2 separate regions of the Homo sapiens genome follow, and region 2 is linked to region 1. The links come from fine-mapping of genetic effects on gene expression. Tissue or cell type: whole blood. Region 1 holds a variant in brackets; the other region holds the start of a gene. All regions are shown on one strand. Distances are from middle to middle.

Region 1 (14,234 bases):
CCGCCACCACGCCCGGCTAATTTTTGTATTTTTAGTAGAGACGGGGTTTCACCTTGTTAGCCAGGATGGTCTCGATCTCCTGACCTCGTGATCCTCCCGCCTCGGCCTCCCAAAGTGCTGGGATTACAGGTGTTAGCCACCGCGCCCAGCCTAAGATACCCACTTCTAATCAACATTGTACTGAAGCTTTAACCAGGCACTTAGAGAAGGAAATGAAATTAAAGGCATCCAGGTTGGAAATTAAGAGGTAAACTATCTCTCTTTACAAGTGACCTCATCTTGTATATAAAAAGTCCTAAGGATTTCACTTAAAAAAACCCTAATAAACAAGTTCAGCAACATTGCAGGAGACAAGCTCAATATACAAAATCAGCTGTATTTCTGTATATTTAAGTGAATAATCTGAAATTGAAATTAAGAAGATTTCATTTACAATAGCACCAAAAATAAAACAGTAATAGGCTGAACAAAACAAGTATAAAATTTATACTCTGAAAACTACAAAACTTGGTTGAAAGAAAGTAAAGAAGACCAAAATAAATGGAAAGGCACCCTCAATCCACGGATCTGGACTTAATGTAGCGGAGACGGCGGCACTCTCCAAACACATCCACAGATTCTACGCAACTCCTATCAACATCTCACTTGGCTCCTCCGCAGAAACTGAAAAGCTTATCCTAAAAATTCACATGGAAATTTGAGGGTCCCAGAATAGCCAAAACAATCTTGAAAAAGAAGAACAAAGTTGGAGAACTCACACTTCCCAATTTCAAAGCTTACTACAAGGCTGCCATGAGGACGTAAGAATAGACACACAGAGCAATGGGACAGAACTGAGGGCTGGAAAGAAGCTCCTGGCTACAGGCAGCGGGTTTCCACACGGTGCCAAAACAATTACACGGAGAAAGGACTGTCTTTTTAACAAATGACGCTGGGACAGAAAAATACCCACATATAAAAGGAAGAAGTCAAGCCGGGCGCGGTGGCTCACGGCTGCAATCCCAGCACTTTGGGAGGCTGAGCCAGGCAGATCACCTGAGGTCAGGAGTTCAAGACCAGCCTCGCCAACAGAGTGAGACCCTGTCTCAAAAACATATTTATATAAATATAAATAAACTATAAAACTGTTAAGAAATCATAGACACAAATCTTCATGATCTTGGATTAAGCAGGGGTTCCTTAGCTATGACACCAAAAGCACAAGGAACAACAACAAAAATAAATTAGATTTCATCAAAATTAAAAACTTTTGTGCTTCAAGGGACACCATCAAAAAGGTTAACAAGACATCCCAAAGAATGGGTGAAAATATTTGCAAATCATGTGTCTAATAAGGGTCTAGTATCCCGAATAAAGTATTACAACTCAATAAAAAGACAACGAACCCAATTAAAAATAGGCAAATTATCTGAATAGACATTTCTCTAAGATATACAAATGGTCAGTAACACCCACGAAAAAATGCTCAACACCATTAGACACCAGAGAAATGCAGGTCAAAGCCACAATGACGTACCACCTCATGCCTGCTAGAGTGGCTGTAATCAAAAAGAATATAAGAGTTGGTGAGGCTGTAGAGAGACCAGAACCATCGGCCACTGTGCAAAAGAGTGTGGTCGTTCATCCTATGGGTGAACATCCAGTTACCACACAACCCAGCAATTCCACTCCCAGGTGCAGACCCAAGAGCAGACGCTGTCCACACAGAAACCTGTATAGGAATGTGTTTGTTTTTAAAATTTGTTTATTTTTGTTTTATTTCTTTATATGAGACGGAGTCTTGCTCTGTTGCCAGGCTGGAGTGCAGTGGCGCAATCTCGGCTCACTGCAACCTCTGCCTCATGGGTTCAAGCGATTCTCCTGCCTCAGCCTCCAGAGTAGCTGGGACTACAGGTGTACACCACCACGCCTGGCTGATTTTTGTTTTTTTTTGAGTCTTTTTTTTTTTTTTTTTTTGAGACAGAGTCTTGCTCTGTCACCCAGGCTGCAAGTGCAATGGCATGATCTCGGCTCACTGCAACCTCTGCCTCCCAGGTTCAAGCGATTCTCCTGCCTCAGCCTCCCGAGTAGCTGGGACTACAGGCATGCGCCACCACGCCTGGCTAATTTTGTATTTTTAGTAGAAACGGGGTTTCTCCATGCTGGTCAGGCTGGTCTCAAACTCCTGATCTCAGGTAATCCACCCGCCTCGGCCTCCCAAAGTGCTAGGATTACAGACGTGAGCCACCTCAGCCGACCTTGTTATTTATTGTTTTTTGTTTGTTTTTTTTTTTTTTTTGGAGACAGAGTCTCGCACTGTCACCAGGGCTGCAGTCTGGAGTGCAGTGGCACGATCTCGGCTCACTGCAACCTCTGCCTCCGCCTCCCGGATTCAAGCCATTCTCTTGGCTCAGCCTCCCTAGTAGCTGGGATTACAGGCGCCCGCCACCATGCCCAGCTAATTTTTGTATTTTTAGTAGAGACGGGGTTTCACCATGTTGGCCAGGCTGGCCTCGAAATCCTGACCTCGTGATTCGCCTGCCTCGGCCTCCCAAAGTGTTGGGATTACGGGCGTGAGCCACCGCGCCCAGCCCCGTTTTTTTTTTTAAAAGACAGAGTCTTGCTCTGTCGCCCAGGATGGAGTCCAGTGGCATGATCAACTCTGCAGCCTCAAACTCCTGAGCTCGAGTGATCCTCCTGCCTCAGCCTCCTGAGCAGCTGGGATTATAGGCGCCCGCAACCACGCCAGGCTCACACACACACACACACACACACACACACACACACACACAATCAACAAACAACAAAAACAAAACAACCCCCTGGTCCATACAATAGCACAGCTGAGCCTGGAAAGGCTGTTAGGTGAACGTCAGAACAGACCCCAAGGTATAGATTCCACCTACAGGGCAGGACAGGGGACTTTACAGGCAGTGCGTGGCTGCTGAGGGCGGGACGAGGACCGGATGGGGACCAGGAGGGTGACAGCTGAAGGGTACAGGGTTTCTTTTGAAGAGATGAAAATGTTCTGAAATTGGCTGTGGTGACGGCGGCGGGTTTGTCAATACACGCAGGACCCCTGAGGTGTACTTTTAAAATGGGTGAGTTGTATGGCAGGCGAGTAATATCTCAACAGAACTGTTGCCACAGAAGAAAAACCAAAACCCAAGCCCACGCTTCAACCGCGGGGCCGCTGCGGGAAAGGACAGCTCAGCGCGCTCCCCGCGCCCCATCCTGGGGCGGCTGCCACAGCTCCTGCCTCCCGTGAGCTTCCCTTGCGGGATCATCGTTGCCGCGCACCGGGTGCTCACTCCTGGGTCCGCCCGGGGTTCGCCCGGGGGCCCATTGCAGGCAGCCAGGGGCTGACCCGGGTCGCTCCGGAGCGCTGGGGCCAGGGGTGCGGATTCCCGGGGAGCGCGCCGGGTGGTCCCTGGTGATCCCGGGAAAGGCAGCCTCGCGCCCCGCGCAGCCGGGTCCAGCCGCAGCCAGGAAGGGCGGGGGGGCGGGGGTCGAGGGGCGGAGGGGGCAGCGGTCCCGGCCCCCGGAGCCGGTGGGGTTGCCATGACGACGCCCGTGCGCCGCCGCCTGCTTCCCGCGCCGCCGCCCCGGGAAGGGCTGGGCTGGGCTGGGCTGGGCTGGGCAGGGTTGGGCGGGGTCCGCGGGGCGCCCTTCCTTCCAGAAGCGTCTTTACCCGAGGTTGGGGGGGTGCGAGCCCCACTCCCGGGTGGGGAGCGGAGGCCAGGCGGGGATGTCTCGGGTCCCACGGTCCCTCCCGCAGGGCCTGGGGCAGCGCCGCTGAAACAACGAGAACGCCCACCCCCACCAACCCCGCCAGAGCCCCCGCAGAGCGCCTGGGGCCTCGGGAGGCGGCTGAGAAAGGCGCAGCTCAGGGTCACCGGAGAGAGGAAACTCCGCTCTCACAGCCCCGTGGCCATGTCCCTAGCAGCTCCGCTCGCAGCCAGCGAAAAGCAGCCAGATGTGCATCGACGAACAGCAAGGGCGGCACCGGGAGTATTACCCAGCAGGAAAAAGGGACAAGCGTTTGGCACGTGACAACTTCACAAGGACAAAGACTTTGTGCGGGGAGAAAGGCGCCAGAAAGGTGACCCATGGTCGGCTTCTGTTTTTGTGACATTCCCGGAAAAACACTATGGGTTGGAGGACAGATCAGTGGTCACCAGGGGCTGGTGGGGTTCGGGGGGAGGGGCAACCCTAAAGGGCTGGCGGGAGGGAGTTTCAGGGGTGATGGAAGGTTATGGTGTTGGTTACACGAGTCCACATGTGCTGAAATTACAGCAGTGTACGACGTAAAATCGAACTTCTGTTTTCCTGTGTGATCTTTTTTTTTTCAGATGGAGTCTTGTATTGTTGCCCAGGTTGGAGTGCAGTGGCGCGATCTCGGCTCACTGCAACCTCCGCTTCCTGGGTTCAAGCGATTCTCCTGCCTCAGCTTCCCGAGTAGCTGGGATTACAGACATGCGCCACCACGCCCGGCTAATTTTGTACTTTTAGTAGAGACGGGGTTTCTCCATGTTGGTCAGGCTGGTCTCAAACTCCTGACCTCAGGTGATTTGCCCGCCTCGGCCTCCCAAAGTACTGGGATTCCCAAAGTGCTGGGATTACAGGCGTGAACCACTGCACCCAGCCGTCCTGTATGATCATTTAAAAAAATCTATTAGCCTGGGCAACATAGTGAGACCCCATCTCTACAAAAAGTAACAAAAATTAGCTGGATTTGGTGGCACACACCTGTAGTCCCAGCTACTCAGGAGGCTGAGGTGGGAGGATCGCTTGAGCCCGAGTTCCAGGCTGCAGTGAGCCATAATCACACCACTGCACTCCAGCCTGGGCAAGTGAGACCCTGTCTTAAAAAAACAAACGAAAACCCAAACTATCAGTGCTGCTCCCAACATCTGTCTGCTGGCGGCCTGGAGTGGCTGCTGGATGCTGTCGAGTTGGATGGACCCTGTCTCTGCAGCTCAGCAAGTACTGGAGCTGCACTGTTCTCTCCAGGATGATGTAAAACAGGTCATGGTTTCACTTGGGGTTTAATTACCATGGTCATTCTGTTCAGTGTGGTTATTGCTCCTTCCACACTTTCTGCCATGGTTTGAATGTTTGTCCCCTCCAAAACCTGTTGAAATTTCATTGCCTTTTAACAGTATCGAGTGGGACCTTCAGAGGGTGGTTAGGCCATGAAGGCTGCGCCCTAACGGCTGGGATTGGTTATAAAAGGGTGGGGTGGCTCCCCTCCTGCCTTCCACCATGTGATGACGCAGCTGGACGGCCCTCGCCAGATGCTGGCACCTGTCCAGTACCGTGAGCCAGTTGATTGTTCATTATAAATTACCCAGTCTCAAGCACTCTGTGACAGCAGCACAAAACGGACAGAGTTCCTAAAGTTGAGTCCCTCAGAGACCATCAAGAGTCAATAGGTGCAGACAGTTTACAGGCTGGGGACAGAAGTGGACTCAGCTGGAAGAGACCCCCAAGGCCAAACCCCCAATATTGCATGTATGAAGAAACCAGGACCCAAAGGATTCTGCGGCCAAGTCAGACACCAGTTGGGACCTGAGTTTGGAGCAAACCATCCTCCCTCCCCCGAGTACCTGCTCTGCGCAGGAGCTGGCAGAGCGCAGGCACACAGGGGTCAGGGGCCCCATCCCGTCCAGGATGGACCCGCCATTCTGTCCCACGCATTTCTTTTTTGAAAGAGTCTCGCTCTGTTGCCAGGCTGGAGTGCAGTGGCATGATCTCTGCTCACTGTAACCTCCGCCTCCCAGGTTCAAGCGATTCTCCTGCCTCAGCCTCCCGAGTAGCTGGGACTACAGGTGCGTTCCACCATGCCCAGCTAATTTTTGTATTTTTAGTAGAGACGGGGTTTCGTCAAGTTGGCCAGGATGGTCTCAATCTCTTGACATCATGATCCGCCCGCCTCGGCCTCCCAAAGTGCTGGGATTACAGGCGTGAGCCACCGCGCCCATTCCATCCCACACATTTCTGACTGCCACACTGCCTGCCCCGTGGCAAGTGTGCCTTCCAGCGAAGTGTCTGCAGCCTCTGAAAATGAGGGCACCACTTCCACACTATGCCCCATTCCCTCCCTGGGAAGTCCTCTGTGGCTGGCAGGCTCCAACACCCTTCAAAGCTGCTGATTATGTATGGCTCTTCCTTTATGCCCCTCCTCCACTCTGAGCCACCCTTTGTGTGGCCCCCTACTCTGTGTCCCTGCCCTCTGCAGCCTCTCCTCCTCCAAGTCCTCCCGCCGGCCCCCAGGCATCTCTGGCAGGACACCAGCTCCGCCCTGAGGTTCCACACCTAATTTTGACTTGTGATTGTCATGCTCCTGTGTCCCCAACCTAGATTAGGAGATCAGGTTGGTCAGGCTCCGGCCAGCACTGGGCTCTGTACCTTGCTGGCAGGAGGGGCTGCCACCAGCCCGACATAACCAGGAGCCGGCCAGCCAGGACACACCAATGCCAGAGTTGGGAATCAGCTCAAGGTCACTCTGGGTTGTCCGGGCAGACTCTTGCGAGGTCCAGGGAGGAACACTGGTACACAGAACACGGCTGAGTAGTAGTCAGGCTCTAACTTCTTGGATAGTCAGAGGGAACGTGGACCCCACCCCACTCCTGGCTGTGCTGTAGCAGGGATGGATGGTTATTGGCGTTCCCTGGATGGCCTCCTGGGCCCTGACCAGGAACTTGGCACAAGGGGGAGGGCACTGTGGACAGCTGCTCCGGTTGGGGCTGAGAGCAAAGTCCTGCCACAAAATGCCGCCAGAACACCCGGCCTCTCTTGGCAAAAGCCCCTGGGTTCTAATGGAGGCAGAGGGAAAGGAGGGACCTGCCCCACAGGCAGGGTGTGTAAAGGCTGTGACTGAGGCCTGGGACTGACAGTAGCCAGGGCCCCTCCAGCCACACCTGCAGCTTCCCAACGCAGGCTCCTGGCACCCTGCGTGCAGTTTGGGACCCAGAGCCGGTGCTCCACAGGCCTGGGACGCACTGCTGCAGGGAGCAGGTCATGGGGCTGGAGCCTCATCACGAGGTGCCCTCCAGGCTGCCTGGCAGTCCTGGGGACAGACAGGGGGAGCGCCAGCCAACTAGTTTTCTGCAGAATCCCTGCAAGGGTGGTTGGAAGACCCCCTCAACCCCAGCTGACACGTGCACCGCAGGAGAGCTGCCGCCACGGGGAGAAACAAGACTTTCCCCCAAACCCAGGTCTTCAGCTTCTTCAGTCCTGAGACCCGGCAGTGCAGGGCCAGCACCCCCATGCCCACCGGTGCGGGGTGTGGAGCCACCCCTTGGGGGTCACCTGCCCATCGTGTTCCCTGCACATCAAGATTCCCGCCTGGGCACCAGGACCCCAAACCCACCACCCTCTGGGCCCAGGATTACACACAGCCACGCGAGGGAGACAGCCTGCCAGCCTGCTCAGAGCAGCACCCTGGCCCCCATGGAGGGCAGCTGCCCAGAGGTGGCCGTCAGGGCCCAGAGCTTCCATCTCACGTGTGCAGAGCCCAGGCCTGGCCGGACTGGGCAGGAGCCCTCCAGTGAGCGTCCCCATGCTGGTCAAGGGGCTGGGCTTTGGTCAGGGTCACCGTGGGGGAGGGGCCGCACACAACCCACCCACGCTCCCACAGAGGGAGCCACGCCTAGGTGCCCACTGCGCCCAAGTCCACGAGGCAGTGGGCGTGCAGGGCCAACTTTAATACGGGCCGGCCTGTCTGGGGGTCGAGGTGGCCGCTCCCTTTGTCCTTGTGGCTTTCCACGGGCAGGGGCGGTCCCAGCGAGATCGTCTCATAACCAAACCAGCCCTGTGCACGAGAAGTCACGCCATGCCCCACAGCCTCCAGTCCTGGCTGCTGGTGGCTCGGGGACCCGCAGGGCAGGAGGGTCCCGGGTCTCGCAGTTCCATGAGCCCCAGCCGCGGGGACCCCCATGGACAAACTTCCGGGGCTGCACCTGCCGGAGCAGCGTCTCCCAAGCATCGGAGGTCCTTTCTCAGCAGGGCTGAGCCCTAGTGGACAGAGCCGTGAGTGGCAAGGCGGGAGTCAGGGCTCTCGGAGTCGTCAATTCAGCAAGAAAGCCCCTGGCCCGCCACCTTCAAACTGGAGGTGGGTGTCTAGGGTGCGGAGGCAGAGGCACAGAGAGGTTCAGCACATGCTGGTCTCCTGGGGATCCCCCCACCAGCAGGGAAGCTGAGGTGCGCCGGGAAGCCAGGCCAAGGGAGGGACCCCTTAACGGAAGCCTGCACCAGCTAATGGGAGCAGCGAGGAGCAAGAGGAAGCGCGGGGACCCCAAGGTCTGGAGGTGTCTTCCTCACAGACGAGCGCGAGCCACGCGGGGCTGGGACTGCAGGGGAACAGCACCAGAGGCGTTGGGCCTGGGCCTCGGCCACCGGGGGAGCCCACAACCGGCAGAAGCTGGGCTCGGTCGAGAGTTAATCCGGACTGAGAGCAGGCCAGTGGCGCCTGAGTGCGTTCAGGCTCAAGGTCTCCAGGAGACGCTCTGGAGTCCTCCTGCAATGCGCCTGCGTGGCTGCAGCTCTGCTCAGCACCGTGCGCACTGGGCTCCAGGGAACCCGGTCAGGGGCTGGCCGTGACCCAAACTCTCTGTGGGCCACAGTCCCTGGGGCATCCCCGTGAGTCCCACAAGACGAGGCCACGTTACGAAGCTGCCACCAGCTCCGCCTGCCTGGGCCTGGCCTTGACAGGGACGTTTTCTGTGGAGGAAACAGAGATGTTTATGACACGCCAAAGACCCACAGGCAGAGACCTCCAGAGAGGGACGAGGCCACAGGGGTGGCAAGGGCCAGTTCCGGGGACTTCGCACTAGGGAAGGGCACGCCCAGCTCTGGGGGAGGCAAGTGACAAACAGGAAGCCAATGGGGCTGACAGACAGGGCCAGGGACACGGGACAGTGGGCCAGGAAAGCACAGCCCCTCCCAGCGGGACTCAGAGAGGAGAAGAGCCCCAAAGATGGGTAAAGGAACAGAACAAACGTGGATGGACGGTTCTAAAGTCAGCTTCCCAGTGGGCAGGTTGGAGAGCCTGTGCTGAATGGTGCCACGGGGAGAGCCATCCCTGGCTGAGGGCTAATCCTGGGCTACACCCTGGGAATGAGCTGGTGCTGCTAAAGAAGCCTTTCCCCAGTTCTGATTTCTGAATGTGTCTCTTTGAATGGGGTATGGCTCTCTTATGAGGTTGCCCAGTTACCGAACCCCTGGGAAACCCAAGCCCAACCCCAAGGCCAGGCACGCACGCCCCCAAGCCAAACAGCCAGGCAGCAGGGCTTGCCCACGGCCCAGGAAGGCCTGGGAGCATTCTGTCTTGTTCCCTTCTAGAATCCACTTTTCTCCTGCGAATTCCAACCATTCAAAAGAATCAAACATGGAAATACCTGGGATCTTCTCAGGAAGGGGCTCGGAGGGAACCTCTGGCAGCTCTATTTGTTCCTGCAAGAAGCAAAGGGTAAGGCTATGAGCAGGTGACAGGTCTGCCCCGGGCTGCCTGGGCCTCCCCGAGAGGACACGGATCCTGTCCGTCAGCCGCTCTCAGCCGGAGTTAAAGCGGACAGGAACGTGCTGCTCAGAAGACCCAAGTCTGCAACCGCCCCGGCTTCTGGTGCCACCAGAATCCCCTAGGTGGTGACGCAGCCGCTACCATGGAGGCTCCTCCCAACAGACCCTGGGGCGCTGAGGGGCTGTAAGGAGGCGACGTCCTGGGTGTGCCCCAGAGACCCTGGCTCTCAGGGACCGAGGGGTGGGTGACACAGACACCCAGGTCACGCTGGTGTCCACCACTGCGGGGTGGGCTGCGGTACAACGCTGTCCCAGCGAGCTTGGCTGCCTAAGCCAGCACGGGTGCTTCTGCCTCTCAGCTGGCCTTCCCTGGAGGCCCCGGAGGACTCGGACCCTCAGGAGAAAGTAACTGGACAAGCAAGTGGGTGCAGGCACCATGGGCCGCACAGCACCAGGGCGCCGGGGCAGCTGGCAGCAGGGCTGGGGCAGAGGCCGGCTCTGGGGGCACCATGAGAATTTGGCGGACTGAGGCAGGGGCCCACAGAGAGGACAACCCCTGTGTCGGGGAGTGAATACAGACTCAGAGCCTGGATGTGAGCCTGGGGCCAGGACGCGGCCCCCGCAGCGAGGGCCTATGTGGGACGTGAGTCAGCAGCCACGGCTGGGGAAAGCCAGCACCACATCCGTGACAGCCGGGGACAGAAAGGGGCCGAGGCGCCAGGAAGGCCCAGCACCCCCGCTCTGTCCAGGGCACGGGGCCAGCCTGCCTGCACCAGACCGTTGGGTGAGCAACCCTGAAAACAGAGTCACCTCAGGTAGGAAAACCAGTCACAAACCGCAGACTATTTACTTAAAGGACACCACATACGAGATCACCATGGGCAGGGCCTCCTGGGGGTCTGAGCTCTGGGGGTCCCGCTGCCTGAGTGACTGTGCTCAGTCCCGGGGGGGCCGTTACCTGAGTGATTGCGCTCAGCTCCTCCAGGATGGCGTCTTCATCCTCCTGAGTGAAGCTTCCTGCCAGGAGCTCGTCTATTTGCTGCAAAAGGACAGGCGGTGGTGAGAGCAGCGAGGAGGTGGCCCCTCAGGGAGGAAGGAGATGGCCTGTGGCTGGGTCTCGTCCCCTTGAGAGAAGGCGGCCGCTCTAGGATGTGGGACAGTTTGGCCCTCGAGGGTGGCCTTGTGGGTTCTCACAGTTGGGGGCAGGCCGGTCAGGGTGCCACCTACCCGCTGGTACTCCACGGCCTCCTGCGTCTCGTCCAGGATCCTCTCCACCTCTTCAATGGACATCACCTGTGGACGAGGGTGATGGGTGTTGACCCCTGTCGCGAGGCCAATGGTAGACCCCCGACAGAGGCCTCCTGGGCTCTCAGGGCCATGGCCTCACCCCTCTGTTTATTTTTATTTATTTTTAAAGACAAGGTCTGGCTGTGTTGCCCAGGCTGGGCTCAAGCGATCCGTCCAAGTAGCTGGGACTACAGGTGCATGCCACCACACCCAGCTCCTGTCCCTGTTTAAATGAGGCCAGGACATGTGTGTCCCAGGCATGGGCCTGTCCTGAGGCCACAGGGGCCGTTTGATGAGTCTTTTCAGAGGCCAC[G/A]ACTGCACTGCCCTGGCGCCCGATGCCCCCTCTCACCCTGAGTCAGCTCTCACAGCCGCCAGTAAAAACAAGCAACAGGTAGAACATTCTGGGCAGGTGACTTGATTTCTTTTGAGTGGCAAAAGGTCAAAGGGCCACTTGTGCTTGACCGGCACACACCACCAGTACTCACCAAACACTTGGAAAAGTAGCACAGCCAGACCTCCCGCCAGGTGAGTCCCTGGCTCTCCAACTAGCCCCACCTACTGGCCCCCATGTCAGGAGTGTGATGGGGTTGGTGGGGGAACGTGGTATGGCCACGCTGGGCTTCACATCCATGCCCGGCCTGAGATGAGGCCGGTATTCACCTCCTCCAGGAAGCCTTCTTTTTTTTTTTTCCTGAGACGGAGTTTTGCTCTTATCATCCAGGCTGGAGTGCAGTGGCGCAATCTCATCTCACTGCAACCTCTGCCTCCCGGTTCAAGAGATTCTCCTGCCTCAGCCTCTTGAGTAGCTGGGTTTACAGGTGCCTGCCACCACGCCTGGCTCATTTTTGTATTATTAGTAGAGACAGGGTTTCACCATGTTGGCCAGGCTGGTCTCGAACTCCTGACCTCAGGTGATCTGCCTGCCTTGGCCTCCAAAAGTGATTACAGGTGTGAGCCACCACACCCGCCACCTCCAGGAAGCCTTCTGTGATTAGTTTGCCAGCCCCCTCCCCACCCTCAGACTTCCCTTCTATGTCACTTCGGCGCCTGGGGACCCAGTTCCCACAGTTCCCAGCCTGTGCTGCACCCGGTCACTGCATCCCTGCCTGCCTGGCAGCACCCAACACATCTCCCCTGCCAGCCTCTTGCCCTGTGTCTGACACGAACACCGTGGGACAAGCCCCCCGCCCTATCCCCAGCTCCAGCCCAATGGGCTCCCCACACCTCCATGCCCCTGGCCCTGCAGAGACTCACCTGGTGCATCTTGTTCAGACACTCATTTCCAAACTGCAGCCCCTCCATCACTTTCATTTCGATCTGGGTGAACTCAATACTCTGAACCTGAAAAGGAAACCAGAGCAGACGCAGGTGCTGAGGATCCGGGGTGCCCTCCTCCCGGCCCTGGGGCAGGGTTCAGGATGACACCCTTGCTGGGCGGGTGCTGCTGGGCGTGAGGGTGACTCCTGACACCTGCTCCTCCCTGTCCTCTCCCACTGCCAGGTGGGGATGCGCAGGACTGAGCAGGTGCCAGGGACACACTCAGGGGACCGCTGGTTGCTTGTTAGTAGCTCTGGTTACCAAAGAGCAGAACCACGCCGCTCGGGTCCCTAACACCAGGGACACTCAGTCCCCATGCAGACCCCTGACCTACCCACACCACCCAGGGGTGGCCCAACCTTCCCCACCTCAGTCCTGCGAGAGCCAACCTGCCCCCCAGCCTCTTAAGACCATTAGCTTCCTGGCAGACTCCCCGGGATTCCAGGCCCGCCCCTCTTCAGGTCAGCTTCAGCCCGAGGCATCTGAGAGGAGCTTTCAGCTCTCGGGAGAAATTTCTGATGTCCACGCAGCCGGGCGGAGCTGCCTCCAGCTGCACCTGCACTCCAGGGCGAAGCACCCGGCCGCCTACCATGGCCTCCAGGCTGCTGATCTGGTTCTCCGTCCTGTCCAGGAGCTGCTCCTGGTATCGCTTCTTCTTGAGCAGCAGCTTGGCCCGTCTGCAGAGGGAAGCCCGAGAGTGACCCGCTGTGGCCCTGCCTGGGCCCCCCACCCCAGCCGACAGGGTGCCCACGCTGCCCGGGCCCCCCACCCCAGCCGACAGGGTGCCCACGCTGCCCGGGCCCCCCACCCCAGCCGACAGGGTGCCCACGCTGCCCGGGCCCCCCACCCCAGCCGACAGGGTGCCCACGCTGCCCGGGCCCCCCACCCCAGCCGACAGGGTGCCCACGCTGCCCGGGCCCCCCACCCCAGCCGACAGGGTGCCCACGCTGCCCGGGCCCCCCACCCCAGCCGACAGGGTGCCCACGCTGCCCGGGCCCCACTCACTCCTTCCTGCCGTCCCGCAGCAGCTGCCGGGCCAGGGCGCGCTCGCGCTCCAGCTGCTGGGCGATCCTCTTCTGGTACTGCCTCAGCTTGTCCCGCTGCTGCTTCAGTTGCTGCCAAGAGAGAGAGGGCCTGGCGTCACCGAGCCCACACTGGGAGCCCTGGCCACGCTACTGAGCGCCAGGCATGGAGGCCGGGCGGCCCTCCGTGAGTGTCCTTCATGGGGCAGGGTTGCCTTCCAGGGGACAGGTGGTGCTGTCTGGACACGTCTGGGGGTGGAAGCCAGGGACTCAGCTCCACATCCTGCCACACAAGAGGCGGCCCCACCAGAGGGTCACCCGGACTCCACAGCCCATCACAGGGATGGGGAAGACCACCGTGGCATTGCTGTGGGTCCACCCTCGAGGCTGCCTGCCAGCGGTACAAGCACTCTAGGCTCAGGTCAGGGAGCAGCTGCCAGGACCTCAAAGGTTTGGACTCGGCTGGGCGCAGTGGCTCACGCCTGTAATCCCAGCACTTTGGGAGGCCGAGGCGGGCGGAGCACGAGGTCAGGAGATCGAGACCATCCTGGCTAACATGGTGAAACCCCGTCTCTACTAAAAATACATAAAAATATTAGCCGGGTGTGGTGGCGGTGCCTGTAGTCCCAGCTACCTGGGAGGCTGAGGCAGGAGAACAGCGTGAACCCGGGAGGCAGAGCTTGCAGTGAGCCGAGAGTATGCCACTGTGTTCCAGCCTGGGTGACAGAGTGAGACTCCATCTCAAAAAAAAAAAGTTCCGACTCAAGAACATGCAGGTGGCGAGTACCCAAGTGCCACCAGCCACACGGCCAGGACAGGGCTCAGACATCCCCCCGGCTTCTCTCCTTGCGCTTCAGCCGCATGAGATGCCTGTGGCTTCCCTGCCCCTTTGCCAACCATCCGGCTGCAGGGACACCCACTCGGCCCCGCTGACCGCCTCTCATCTGTGTGCCGTCCCAGAGAGGGCACTCGGCCACTGAGGAACTTCAGCCAGTCCTGCTCTATCAGGTCCTTAAGTTTTCCAAACGTCATCACTTCAGACAATGCTGAGCCCGTGCAGGCACAGGGATTATGGCCTTAAGGCAGGAGGCTGAGGAGAATTAGCTC
Region 2 (13,722 bases), 31 kb before region 1:
CCCCAGGAAGAAGCTGGATGTGGCAGAGAGGAACAGCCAGGCCCGGGCAGCCGGGCACGGAGCAGAAAAGCCGGCAGTGTGCTCCCTGCCACCCAGCACATGACGCCCACCACCTGGCGCCAGCCCTTACCAATCACACCAGAGGCGGCAAACCCAACTGGCTCCTGGCTCCAGGAACCCTGTGGCACCCGTCTCCTCGAAGCACGGCTGCGGCCCCGCCAGGCTGGCTTCCCCACCAGCTGCTAGAGTGACCAGCCAGGGCCAAGAGCCTCGGCACAAGGAAGGCCATGGCCACGTCTGCAACAGGGACTCCTCCTCCTCCCCAGATGCTCTCTCAACCTCACATATTCTAGGACAGGCTGTGGGCCAATGGCACTATGCCCAGAGAAGGTGGTGGAGCCGCCACACTCCAGGTCATGGGTCACCTGGGAGCCAGGGCTTCTCTGCGGACACGAGACCTTGAGGAAAACACCCACCTGACATTCTCCTGGCATTCCAGGAGACACAGCCAGCCAGGGAGCCAGCCCCTCAGCACACAGGGATGCACGGGGCTTCCCCAAGAGGGCTGCAGCTTCAGTAGCCTTAATTCCAAAGGCCACCGGGGGAGGCAGATTCCAGCACTCCATCCCTCCATCTGGGCCACTACCCAGGGCAACCTGAGCAAGCGCTGGGCCCGGGCTCCTGTGGAGGAAGGGGTCTTCCGCGCCTTGCCCTCCCAACACCTGCAGGGCCCAGCCCACGCAGTGCCCCCAGAAGGTCTGAGATTATGTTCTCGGCAAACACCGGGAAGCCGTTCCACTCCCCTCCCCTTCATCTTCCATGAAATTCCCCGAGGACACAGCTCCCAAGGGAATGGAGCCACCAGAAAAGAGGTCAAAGTCTGCGTTACGGATTCTTACGGGGAAGAAAATCAAAACTGCACTTTTTATTCTCGCATTTTTAATCACCAAGGCCAAGGACAAGCGTCCTCCTTTGCCAAGGCAAACACCACTCAGAACTGCAGTTAAGGCGATGCAATGTCCAAACCAAACCAAACAGCTGAGCCGCATCGCGGGTGACACTAAGCAGGCCACAGCACAGCCGTTCCAAGAGGCACTGCCAGGGCTCTGCAAGCCGCCAACCCAGGCACAGGAGCGGCCCCGGGAAGGGATGCCAGAGGCAGCACCGTCCCAGGAGAGGACAGAGCTCAGCACTGCCTGGACCGGCTGGACCGGCCCAGGAGTGCACACCGGTGGCCTCAGCGGTCTCCTGACTATGTCTCCATGTGGGCTGAGTTTCTGCCTGGCTGACATTGCCAAAAGCTGCCCAACCAGTACCGGCACTACCAAGGCACCTTGAGCTCCCCAGTGACAAAGCACAAAAAGGTCTCAAAGACTCAGCAGTCAGGCTCCCGGAGTGGCAGCAGGAGCCACCTACCTACAAAACCAACCCCGCCTGTGTGCAGCAGCAGCAGCGCAAGCCTGTCACCAGGGCAAAGCCTTTCCAGAGTGGATCGACCCTTCAGACACCTGCGGCCCACCGCGTCCTGCCGTGCTAAATCAAATCATCAACCGCCACATCTTCACTTGGGAAAATCACCAATTAACCCACCCGTGGAAGACAAAACGCAGAACCTGTGTGTTTCACGTGCTCCAGACCAGCTGGTCTGCGTCCACAGGGGCTCAAAGTCCCCAAACACTCAGTCCTAAGAGTTTTCCTGCCAGCAGATTTCACTTAGACCTGCAGATAAATTACAGCTTCACCTAGGTGAAGGCCTACTGCCCGGTTAGGAGAGTTTTATTAAGGACGATCACGGGGTCGGTCCCCCAGAGCAAAACCACTCCATGTACTCACCCCCTGCCAACTCTCACCACGAAAGTTCCTGCTTTCTGGTTTCAGCGCAGAAGGAGAAAAAATAGGAAAAAGGTTCCGCTGGTACTTCTCTTCCACCCTCTGCAATCACAAACAAGTCGTAATGGAGCTAATGACTAATAATTTAATAAACCTCCCTCCCTTGACAACATGTGCTTCCACAGAGCAACAAGGCCAGAACCGTATGCCACAGACTCTGTGAAACCAAACCTAACAACCCCAGGGCCTGTGCCTTTCCCAAGCCGACTCCTCAGGTCACCCTGAATCCTGTTTCCCAGTGGCTCCGACGTGGCTTTAGGACTCATCTAGTCGACCGCACACCCGCCTTCAGAAACCTTCCAGACTGACGCGGCCCCAACTTCACAAGCTTTATTGAAAGCTGTATTCAAGTGCAATCGGCCCCCTGCACTCCAGCTGGAACCAGAGGGGCCACCCCTGAAGCCTCCATCTGGCTCTCCCAAGCCTGAGAGCTAAGAGGGCTTCCCAGGCCCCTGGCCAGGCACGCCTTGGCCGCCTACCACAATCAGAAACAGTTACTCTGCCGGGCAGGGTGCAAGCCGGTTAGGAAACATGAACCAGCGACTGCCGGGTAAATACCCACTCCACTCATCGCCCAGCCTGTCACTGAACCTGCAGACAGTTTTGAAACAAAGCACATCTGTAAGAGATCGCCCAGGACCCAGGGACACCCAGAGCAGGGGTTTCTCCTCTGAGAAAATGCTCCCCGGCAGCTGCCGGGCTCAGGCGTGGGGGTCTGGACCGAGAACGGATGCTGAAGAAAGAGAAAACCAAGGGCCTGTTTGTCGGTATCCCAGCCACAAAAACGACTGGGGAGGGGGCGGCAGGGGAGGCTTCCAGCGGTGCTCTGCGGCCCTTGGATGTGAACCTGTCATTTCGCAGACGAGAACGTGGATGCCACTCTTAACACATCTGAAGCAAAGGCAGGCACGTCAGCCTCCTACACAATTAGTCTTCTCTCTCCGCGGTTACATAAGATGATAGATTATCCGTCCACCCATCCAGCCTGCCCGCGCTCCGACCTCCCACCTTAGGCCCCAGCATGGGCGCCGGGCAGGAGTTGTGGGAAGGGAAAGCCTGTTGAGAATGAAGTGCCCGAGGCTCGCGCAACCGCGCCTGGAGGAGCCCCACGGTGCCACCGCGCCGACCGCGGCCTTCAGACAGCCCCCATGCCGTCCTGGCCGCCGCAACCCCTGGGCCCGCCGCCCCCGCCGCCCCGGCCCTGCCCGGGTGTGCTACGACCCCGACCGGTCCGAGGGCTTCCGGGGCCCGGCGCGCGGCTCCGTTCCCGCCGACGCCAAGGCGAGCGCGCGGGGGCCGAGCAGGGCCGTCGGAGCGGGGAGTGCTCCCCGGGCCTGGGGCTGGGGACTGACCGGGCCGCGGCGCGCATGGGATGGGGGGGCCCGGGCGGGGGTGGCCACCTGTGAGCGGCCGGCGCCGGGCTCACCACCCCAGCAGCCCGGGTCCCGGGTGGCCGCGCCGGGAAGACCCCCAAAGTCCCAGCCTCCTGGCCCGGCGCGCGGCCCCGGGGCCGCCCTGGTCGGGCTCGGGCGCGCGGGCGGCGCGCGACCCAGGCGCACACGGAGCGGGCTCAGCTCGGCGCCGGGGGGCGCTCACCTTATAGACATTTTCCGTGAGCCGGTGCATCTCCTCTGAGCGAGACAGAGACATGGTCCTGGGTCCCGGCTGCACCACAGACCGGAGCGGGGGACGCAAGCGGCGGCAGCAGCGGCGGTAACGGCAGCAGGACGGAGACGAAAGCGGACCCGAACCACAGAGCCCGGCGTCCGGCGGCGGCCACCTTTATAGCCGCCTCAGGCCCCGCCCCGCGGCAGTCCCCGCCCCTGCGTCCCGCCCCCGTTGCGCCCGCATCACCGCCCCCGACCACCCGCCCCCGCCCGGCGCTGCCGCTGCTAGGCAACCGCCAGGCCCCGCCCCCGCACCGCCCTTTCCATTGGTGGGTTCCGGAGAAGGGGGAGGGGGGCGGGATCGGAGGTGGGGCCTAGTGGCCGACTCCAGGCAGCGATTGGTCTGCGGCGGCGTCGATCCTGGGGGAGGAGAGGGGAGGCGCGGCGCGGGCTGGGGCCCTGGGAGCAGCCTGAGGGGGCCCGGGCAACAGCCGGGCTGGGGGCGGGGAGGCGGGGGCGGGGTGGCGCAGGAAGAAGGAGCAGAAGGTGCGGGGAGGAGAGCGGGGGGCGCCGGCGGCAGCGCGCGTGGAGGCGGCACTTCGCGAAGTGGCACTTCGGGGCGGGCGGCCCGCCGGGTCGCGGCCTGGCGCTGCGGGGCGGGGAGCGGCTCGGACGCAGGACGCCGCGGGCCGGGCTTACAGGTGGGAGAGGCCCCGACCCCGCCGCTTCGCAGGTAAGCCCGCCGGGCGGGCGGCGACCCCCCGGCCGGCCCCTCGGGGCAGAGAGGAGAACCCTGGGGGAGGGGGTGCTGCAGGAGGACCCTGGAGAGAGCTCGGCCCTGGAGTGGGGGACGACTTGGAGAAGGAGGATTTCGGGGGAGCATCGTGAGGAGAGGACTTGGAGGGAGGATCCTGCAGAAGGTGAACTCTGGGGAGGACCCCAGACAGGCAGACAGCGCTTGGGGGCTTGGGGCCGGGATTCTGGAGAGGGGAGGACCCTGGGAGAGGAGGGTTGGGGAAGAGGATCTTGGAGGAGGGCCCTGGGAAGGAGGATCTGGAGAGGGGACAGGGGAGTGTCCTGCTGGAAGGCCTGGGGACAGGGCGACCCTTAGGGACGGGGAGGACCCTCCTGCCGTCAGAAGATTCTCGTTGGAGGCAGTTTACTGAGAGAGAGAGGTCTCGGGAAGGAAGGGTCGAGGGCAGTAGGAAACGAGGGGCCCGGAGGACTCTCATGCGGTGGAAAGCCCTAGGGGGTGGGGGAACCTTGTAGGAGGAATGGAGGAGTCAGAGCTGCCTCCAATTTTTAGGAAGGGTCCTGCTTAAGGGTCCTCCCAAGGGGAGATTCTGCCGGGGAAGCTGGCCGAGTTGGCACACAGGTCTCCCGGTACAATTCCCGTGGAGAAATATTTACATAAATTAGGCTAACATAGAGGAATTATTTGTTTTACGTTGTGAAACACCAGATCTGAGCGTTTCCGTTTAATGAAACCTCTCAGTCTCCCAGCCTCCCATCCCTGCAAAATCATTCATTCATTCATTCCTTCAACGAGTCAGGCCCCTGGGGGAGACGCAGTTGTGCTGGCTGGCCGGCAGATCCCCAGACTGGCACGGGCTCAGGCCGATGGAAAGACCAGGGAAGTAAGATTCAGGAAGCATTGCCTCCCTCCCACCACAGCCCCGCGCCTCCTCTCCTCCGGCTGAATTTCCTTCCAGCTACTGGCCCTGGCTGCTTCCTTTTTCTTTATTGTCTCCAGTGTTTGGGGGTAGATCCCTGTGTATTTATTTTCTAGGATTCTTTTGGTGGTAAATGACAGAAAGCTCGCTCAAACTGGCCCTAACAAATGAGGGCATTTACCTGAAGGTAGGAGCATCTCCACTGACCCTGACCCCCTTCTTCTAGGCCAGCTTCCTGCTGTGTTCCCTGCACCCACCGATCTCACACGCAGCCCTAGGACAGACGTCCACTGGCCTGAGTTGGGTCTGGGGCCAACACGGAGCAGGTGGGGGTAGAGCAGCTCTGCTCGCCTGGAGGAAAGTTGAATGGCTGGAACCAAGATGACAGATGGAGGCTGGCAGGCAAACACGGGAGGCCTCCTCACTCCAAGAGGGGAGTCAGCCTGGGGACAGTTCTTCTCCAGGCCCTGCTGCTCCCATCAGCTGCAACACAGGAGAGGTAGGCTTCTCCGGAAAAGCTCCCACGGTCCTGGATCCCGCTCCACCTTCTAGAAGCTCCCAGCGTTACTTCCTGAGCTGGCCTGCACATCGTTGCGCTACTCCCGTCCAAGGGGGGACATATTCGGTGACCGACTCAGAACGCAGCCTGCTTCCCGGGTGGCCAGTGGCTCAGCAGTCTCGGTGCCTGAGCCTGCTCCCTCCGCCCGGCGGCTGGGCAGGTGGCTGAATGCGGGCTGGAGGCCTTCCCTGAGAAGACGGTTATCCATGCTGTACATGGAAGTGACCAGCTCGGCACCTGAGGAGACACACCGCGGCCGATGACAGGCGCAGAGCAGGACGTGGTGAGGTCCTCATACCTAGGAATGCAGAACAAGGGCAAGAAACTCGGTGCCCGCCTGGCATCTGCCCTGCACCAGTGGCCTCCAGGAAGTTCTCCACCAAGGATGTTCCCCAGGCACTCTGTGCTCGCCTTCACCAGCGTCCTGTGAGGTCTTTCACACTGATGGGGAAGCCTTTCTAAAGGGTATTAGGGGGCTTGGGGGCTGGGGGTGCTGAGTACCAAGGGTCCCAGGAAGAGACAGGCCAGGCTTATGGGCTGGGCATCCAGAGATCGCCCTGACGCCAGCTCCAGGTGGAGTTAGGAGGGCACTCTTGTCCCGACGCATTTACAGACCACTCCCTCTTCTTGTTCCCCTCGACTCTGAGAGTGTGGTGGGGTAGCTGTGGAACCTGACTGCTTGCCTGAAGGTTGGGCAGCGTGGCTAGAAATTGCGGCCCAGACCTGGGATCTCACCCACACCTCTATGAGACGTCCTGAAGGAAACCATCGACTGAGCGGAGAGGCTTCGCCTTGCCCGCCTCCTCCCAGGAAGGAAGAGCGGAAGAGGCGTCGCCAGCCACCGAGACTGCCAGCCACCACCCCCTCCCAGACTCTCTGTCCCCACCCCAGACCAGGGTCACCTTCTTCCTGCACTGGGGGTGGGGTGCGGTAGGTTTCGCAATCCAGACTGTGGGGTGGGGGTGGGAGCAGGTGTGTGTAAATGAGCAGCTCGTCAGGAGTCACTGAGAAGGAGGCAGATGGAGCTGGTACCCAGCAGGTCTCCTCTCATAAGCGTCAACCCTCGCCTGGGCGGGCTGGGGGATCCTCAGCACCCCAGCTCTGAGCCAGGGGTCTGCAACCCGGGCACCAGCGATGGGCCCTCATGCACACAGGGCGCCGAGCGGGGCCGGAGGCAAGAGTGACTTCAGACAGGAACCCGACGCCACAGCCGGTGACGCGGACCCTGGGTCAGCCAGCACGATGGGCCGCTGGGGAGAGGAGGGCTGGAGGCAGAGAGTGTAAGTGTGCAGCCTTCATCAGCTTATTTTTAGTCGCGTTATGTAAGTGGCTTCATCTCAACGTCACATGGGGGGGGGTCTCAGATTTAATTACAGGATGACAGCCTTTGCTTTTCAAGCAAGCTGTTCTCCTGGCAAGCCAGGCGAAGGATTGGGGAGTTTTGCTAAACAGAAGGAGCCCTTTCTGAGGTGACCACCCGTCAAAACTTGAACCCGCTTCCACCTCCGTCTCCCTCTTCCCGACCAGCCTCACCCAGCCTCGGCTGAATGTGGCCTGAGAGTAGCCACTTGTCCGCAATCACAGGGACGTTTTATGCCTGTCAAGGGAGCTTCCTCTCTCCTCTTCCTCCCCCTCCCACCTTCTGCCTGGCAGCTTTGCCTTCTCTCCAAGAGAAGGGTCCACCCAATCAGAACTCCTCTTCCTTTTCATTCCTGGATTAAAGCACTTGTAATCAGTAACCAGAAAGTTCCAGAGCGGGAGAGACCGGAAGGCACTGGAGTGCTATCGGACGGGTGTCTGGGGCAGAGCCAGGAGGGCGAGCCTCTTCTCTCCCCGCCTGCCCTTGCTCACTTCCCCCTCCATGCCAGGTGCTGTGGGAGCAGCTGGGCCTGGCCGGGGTCGGCGGGTGAAGCTATCCGCATGGTGTCTGGAGCACCGTTTCTTTGCTTCCTGGATGGGCTGGATGGGCTCCCGTGTTCTTCACCAATGGCAGCGTTACCAGCACCAATGGCAGCGTTACCAGCAAGAAGGCAAAGGCAGGAGCACATCGAGGGTGGGAGCCAGGGCTGTGGGGTCAGGAGTCCCGCTCCTTGCCGCGGGAAGCCTGGCTCAGCCACCTCCAGCACACTTCGGCTTTGTCCAGCATAAAAGGCAGAGCGACGTTTTCACTGCAGGCTGTTTCCCACCAGGGCAAGTGGGACAGGGCGAGTGCTGACGTCTGCAGGCATGGTGTGCATTTAGGGGTGGGCGGCACCGAGGGGGCATCATTTGGCATAGGCGGGCCCGGGGGCCACTGGGCTAGATGACTGGCTGGTTGCTGGGGGCAGGTGTCACAGCCTCTCTGAGCACCCTCTAAGTGGAGGACAGAACATTGTTGGGAGGAGTCCAGGCATAAAGTGACATAAACAGCGCAGAGAATGGGACCAGCGCACCTGAGAGGTGATCATTAGCCTCAGCAACTGGATGGGACATTCCGAAGAGCTCCCAGCCAACACAGATGGTCACTCCAGAGGCTGACATTTAAAAGGAAGGGGCCCGGCCGGGCACAGTGGCTCACGCCTGTAATCACAACACTTTGGGAGGCTGAGGCGGGCAGATCAACTGGGGTCAGGAGTTCAAAACCAGCCTGGCCAACATGGTGAAACCGCATCTCTGCTGAAAATACAAAAAATTAGCCAGGCATGGTGGTGGGCACCTGTAATCCCAGCTACTCAGGAGGCTGAGGTAGGAGGATCGCTTGAACCCAGGAAGTAGAGGTTGCAGTGAGCCGAGATTGTGCCATTGCACTCCAGCCTGGGCGACAAGCGAAACTTCGTCTCAAAATAAATAAAAGTAAGGGGCACAGGGAGGGGGCCCCAGCTCGTGCCCCTTCTGTGTGGGCTGCACATGGTGACTTCCTTCCAGAGAGCACAGAGTGGGAGGTAGGCAAGGCGTCTCCACAGTGGAGAGCCCGACCCACTGTCTCAGCCCAGAGGTCAAGGCTGGCACCATCACCGAGAGGTCACACGGGCAGATGTGACAGGGCGCTTCACCACTGGGCTCTTCCTCCCAGACCCATAACCCTTGTCTTAGTATTAGAAAAACACTGGCAGACCGGGCGCAGTGGCTTACACCTGTAATCGCAGCATTTTGGGAGGCCGAGGTGGGAAGATTGTTCAAGAGCAGTCTGGGCAACATGGTGAGACCCCATCTCTACAAAAAAAATTTTTTTTTTAATTAGCCAGGCGTGATGGCACATGCCTGTGGTCCTAGCCACTAGAGGCTGAGGTGGGAGGATCACTGGAGCCCAGGAGGTCAAGGCTGCAGTGAGCTGTGATCACACCACTGCACTCCAGCCTTGGCGACAAACCAAGACCCTGTCTCGAAAAGAAAAGAAAAGAAACATTAGGCAAATCCCAACAGGGGGACACTCTACAGAAAAACCGACCAGCCCTCCTGAAAACTTCCCAAGTCATCAAAACCAAGGAAAGTGGGCTGGGCGCGGTGGCTCACACCTTAATCCCAGCACTTTGGAAGGCTGAGGCGGGCAGATCACAAGGTCAGGAGTTTGAGACCAGCCTAGCCAACATGGTGAAATCTCATCTCTAAAAATACAAAAATTAGCCGGGCGTGGTGGCAGGCGCCTGTAGTCCCAGCTACTCGGGAGGCTGAGGCAGGAGAATTGCTTGAACCCAGGAGGCGGGGGTTGCAGTGAGCTGAGATGATGCCACTGCATTCTGGCCTGGGTGACAGAATGAGACTCTGTCTCAAAATAAAAAAAACCAAAAACCAAAAAACAACCAAGCAAAGTCTGAGAAACTGTCACAGCCTAGAGGAACCTGGAGACAGCTGATCCCTAAATGTCACGTGGGATCCTGGGTGGGGTCCTGGGAGAGAAAGAAGACATTGGAGGGAAACTGAGGAAATATGAATAAAGTATGGGCTTTAGTTAATAATAATGTAGCAGCATTGATTCATTGATCATCATAAACACATGTACTGATGCAAGATGTCACCAAAGGGAAAACTGGGCTGGGGGGATGGGGGGGTGGCGGTATCTTTGTAACAATTGCATGAATGAAAAATGTGCTAGAGTTAAGGTTGTCATGGGAATGGGCAGTGATCTTGCACAGGCCTCCAGTTTTACCTGCAGGAGTCCGAAGGCGTCACCTGTGCCTCACCCTGGAATCTCGTCCTGGCCCCCAGGTCCCCACTCTGTCCACCTTGGGGTCAGTGGATGGAGCTGTTGCCCCTGTGGTCTGCTGCTGCTGATCACAGAGAGCCCCAGGGGGCCAGCACCCTGTGGAGTGGCCCCTTATCCCGAGGACAGGCACGTGGGCCCGCCCCCCACCTCGCCCCCTCCCCCGTCTGTGGCTGCGGCTGGACTGCCCGCAGTGGAGCTGGGGCTGTGAGGCGCGAGGGTCCTGCTGACGGCTCAGCCCTTCTGCCACCCCAGACGTGGTTCTCACCTGGCCTCCTTGGCAGATGGTGCCTTGGGTTTGCTGCCCACAACCCAGCGTGGCTCATGGCTGTCCTGCAGCCATAGTGTTGGCCAGACTTCTGGCCATAGCCAGGGAGATGCATTGCTGCCCATCCGGGCATCTGATGTCCCCTCTCTCCTCTCGCAGAGAGTACGTGGCCCGTGATGGGGAGGAAGTTCTGGAGGACAGGATGAGGCCACTGTCTCTAAGGCAGGGAGACCCTGCCTGCTCTGAGCAACACATGGGCAGAGGAGTGTGGGCATGGCCTCTCGGGCCCTTCCTGACCCTGTGTTGCCGTGGTCCAGCCTCAGCCCTCAAAGTGAGGCGGCCTACAGACAGAGCTTCCCTACAGACCAGGCCAGAAAGGCCAGAGGGGCTTCCTTCTGAGGGTGGTGGGGACAGACGACATGTGGCCTCCCTCCAGAGCCTGCCCTGGCGGGGGTGGGCGGGGAGAGGTTCCCCAGCAACAAGCCCCCTTATATAATCCAGCTCACATCGCGTGGCGTGACTCCAGGTGCCTGTGGGAGGCAGTGCGGGGGTGAGCACCGGGGCGCAAGTGAGTCTCAGAGTTTCGCTCCGTGCTCCTCCCCCCCTTGCTATATGTCAGCGTCATCCGGAGCCTGCCAGCCCGGTCACCCACTTGCTTATTAGAATACATTAGCTGACAATGTGGATTTAAATAACTCGGGCAGGTGACAGCCTGAAGCGCACCCAGCGTAGCTGGGCTCTCCTGCACTGGCCCAGGTGAGGCTGGGGTCTGGGGCCGGAGGAAGGACACATGTGGCGCCGGGACGAACTGGCCGAGCTGGCCGCTTCAGCCACACGTCTGGAGCTGGGCAGGGTGGAGGGGGAGGAGGGACACGGGTGCCCACAACGCAGCACCACCCCGGGCAGGAGTGGGAGCCCGCCCCAGTCCCAGGCCCACTCGCCATCTTCTGAACCCAGCATGGGGTGAGAGTGGCCAGTGACTGGGTGAGCAGGAAGACGGACCTGTGTGAGGACACTGAGCACTGGCCCCTCCTGGCACTGGGGGCCGTACTCGGCTCAACCTCCCTGAGCAAAGACGAAGAAAGACGAACTTTGCTTAACGCTCAGTATAATTAGTCTTCATTTACCGCCTGAAACGTTGTCTTTGTTTTCTTATCACTCTGCTTCTTAAATGACTTAAACTGCCTTGAAAGTGATCTGAAAGGTATTTCTGGATGGGAGCGGAGGGAATCTGTTCTTCAGAATCTGAAATTGGAGGACACCTGGAAAACAAGACCTCAGTGTGTTCCCGCAGGTCCCTGCAGACAGGAGACAGCAGAGCTGTACCTGCGGGTGCCGCTTCGCATGCCGTCAGGGAGGACCCAGACGTCTCCATGCTGCTGGGCGCCGCGCAGATGGCTTCCCTGCCCGGGGCTGGCTGCTTCTAATTTCAGCTGCTGGAGGCTCCGCGCTCTCACTCTTGCTCGCGCTCTCTCTCTCTCTCTTTTATTCCATGTTTATTTAAAGCCAGATTTTGAAATGTTGTCTTCAGCCCTAAAATCTCACTTTATCTTCTTGCAGCAGATCCTATAAAACCCCACTTAGGTGCCTAGAGGGTGGGGGACTTCGAGGACAGAGTTTCCCTGGCCCGCTGCCTGACACTGTCTCCGTAAACATTCCGATGACTGGTCAGTGTTTTCCCAGTGGAGCAGCCCAGTGTCACGTCCACCCAGACGGAATACAGACGAGCCGGGTGGACGTCGTGAGTCCAGATACACGAGAGAGAGCATGGCCTCCCCAGTGACATGCAGGAAGCACGCCTGCCCCGGTGCTCGGAGTTGAACTTAGGCAGGGGAGTCTGAGGCTGCCCTGCCGTCTCCTGTCTGGGGTCGTGATGCAGTGGGGCCTGTCATGAGTGGTCCAGACGTGTACCCCCGGAGGTGGAACAGTGACAGCCTCAGGTGCCCTGGTGCCTCCTCCTTCCCGGCTCTTCCTGGCACTCTGCTTCCTTCTCCTAACCTGAGAGCCACACGCTATTTCTTCTTGTCCATCTAGAAACCAAGGACATCTGGAAGGGGTCTTCCACCTTAGACCCTAACAGGGGAAGTGCAACGCAGCTTTCTGGCCGCGCTGACCCGACAGGGCTGCTCCGATGGGGAAGCGTGGCCACTCGCACAGATGTTCATTTGCACAGCATCAGACCACACAGCAGCTGGGGCCCTTTGTCCCACCGGCCATGGGAGCCCACAGTCAGCCCGTGTGCATGGTAGGTGCTCCAGAAATATGAGGTCCCTTTCTCTTTGATGAGACGTAACTACCCTCATGTCCCTCTATGGCTCGCCTCAGAATGTGCTAGAAGAGCTTTGATGAAAGGGGGATGTCTTGATGAACTGCACAGGGTGAAGGCAAAACTGGCCGAGGGGCCAGGCTGGATGTGTAGCGGGGAGGACACCTGCAGGAATGGAGTTTACCTAAATAGGTGCTCCTGGAGCCAGTAGTGCTAAGGAAGGAGCTCCCTGGCTTATCGTGCGCAGAGCCGCAGCGCCCCAGCCCAGCCACGGAGCCACACAGCTGCCTCTGGCTAGGGGCTAGGAGGCGGGCAGGGTGGGACGCAGCCGGGGGCAGTTGCCCCAGGGCTGGCTAGAGATGGCGGCCGTGGCCAAGCCAGTCTCCAGCCGACTTAACGCCAGAGCTACCGGGGCCCAGAGGAGGCGTGGCTGTGTTTCCAGTGAGAGCCAAGCAGTTTTCCAAAGAGCGCCGCAAGCTACTGCCAGGGCCTTTATGTTCTAAAGATGTGCGGAGCGTGTCTCAGTGGCTTCGCCGGCATACTTGGCCAGAAAGTAACATGATTTCGAGAAAACATGATTTGAGTGTTAAGCTCGAGAATATCATTTCCCCCAGCAAGTTCTTTTTCTTCTCACAAAGTTGGAAGACACAGAAATCTTTGTAGAGGTTCATGGAAAACTTTAGCTGTTTCCTAGCTGCCCAGATGAAAAGAATATTCCATCCACTGGGGGAAAACAATTACTCTAAACAGATTCGGGTGGCATTTTACCCCTCGTCCAACTGGCTGCACGTGACCTTTGCCGGCGTGGCTCCAATGCCCAGAGACGAGGCTGGTGTGAAGAGCTGGCTGCTGATCCCTGGAATCTGCCGCTAATTCTCACTCAGATTTTGAGATTTTCTCTGCGGCTGCAGGAGCCAACAGAGTCCTTTGTGCGGCCTCAGGACTCGGCTTTCAGAGGCCCTGGAGCCAGTGGTGTTGGATTCAGCCGTAATTCTTCATTCTTTGGCTCAAGGGAAAACCTTGATTCTGCACAGGATTGCAAAAGCCGAGGCACTCCAGCTAGGACACGGCGTCATTGGAGTGCCCTGGTGCGTTCCAAGGAAAGTTGAGTTGGTGATTTCCAAGTGGTTTTGGGCAGGGCAGGGTCTCCAAAAGGCTGGAGGTGCTGGAGGAGAGGCTGGGTTAGCTTGGCTGGAAGGGGCCCTGCCCTTGTTGCGTCAAGCCTGGGAGACTGGACTTGGGACTCAGGTGCATTTGGAGTTTTTTTGTTGTGTTTTTT

Evidence for each region. PIP is the estimated chance that this variant, and not a neighbour inherited with it, causes the effect.
Region 2: BAIAP2-DT starts here. The variant in region 1 is fine-mapped to the expression of BAIAP2-DT in whole blood (INTERVAL, PIP above 0.99).

What each region holds. Positions count from the first base shown.
Region 1 is chr17:80,993,567-81,007,800 of GRCh38, reverse strand. It overlaps CHMP6 (charged multivesicular body protein 6), which reads right to left. Exons shown (of 8, transcript NM_024591.5): 2 at 13,111-13,220; 3 at 12,695-12,782; 4 at 12,043-12,129; 5 at 10,729-10,794; 6 at 10,460-10,540; 7 at 9,381-9,435; 8 at 7,668-8,703. The coding sequence ends at 8,648. LOC124904077 (translation initiation factor IF-2-like) reads right to left here and starts at 5,685. Exons shown (of 1, transcript XM_047437254.1): 1 at 1-5,685. The coding sequence starts at 3,542. The coding sequence ends at 3,072. The variant G/A (reference allele first, on the strand shown) is at 11,102.
Region 2 is chr17:81,025,073-81,038,794 of GRCh38, reverse strand. It overlaps BAIAP2-DT (BAIAP2 divergent transcript), which reads left to right and starts at 4,076. Exons shown (of 2, transcript NR_026857.1): 1 at 4,076-4,230; 2 at 5,397-9,662. BAIAP2 (BAR/IMD domain containing adaptor protein 2) reads right to left here and starts at 3,644. Exons shown (of 14, transcript NM_001144888.2): 1 at 3,487-3,644. The coding sequence starts at 3,540. RefSeq lists enhancers at 1,229-1,781, 2,832-3,827, 7,063-7,670, 7,671-8,279 and a silencer at 3,699-4,008.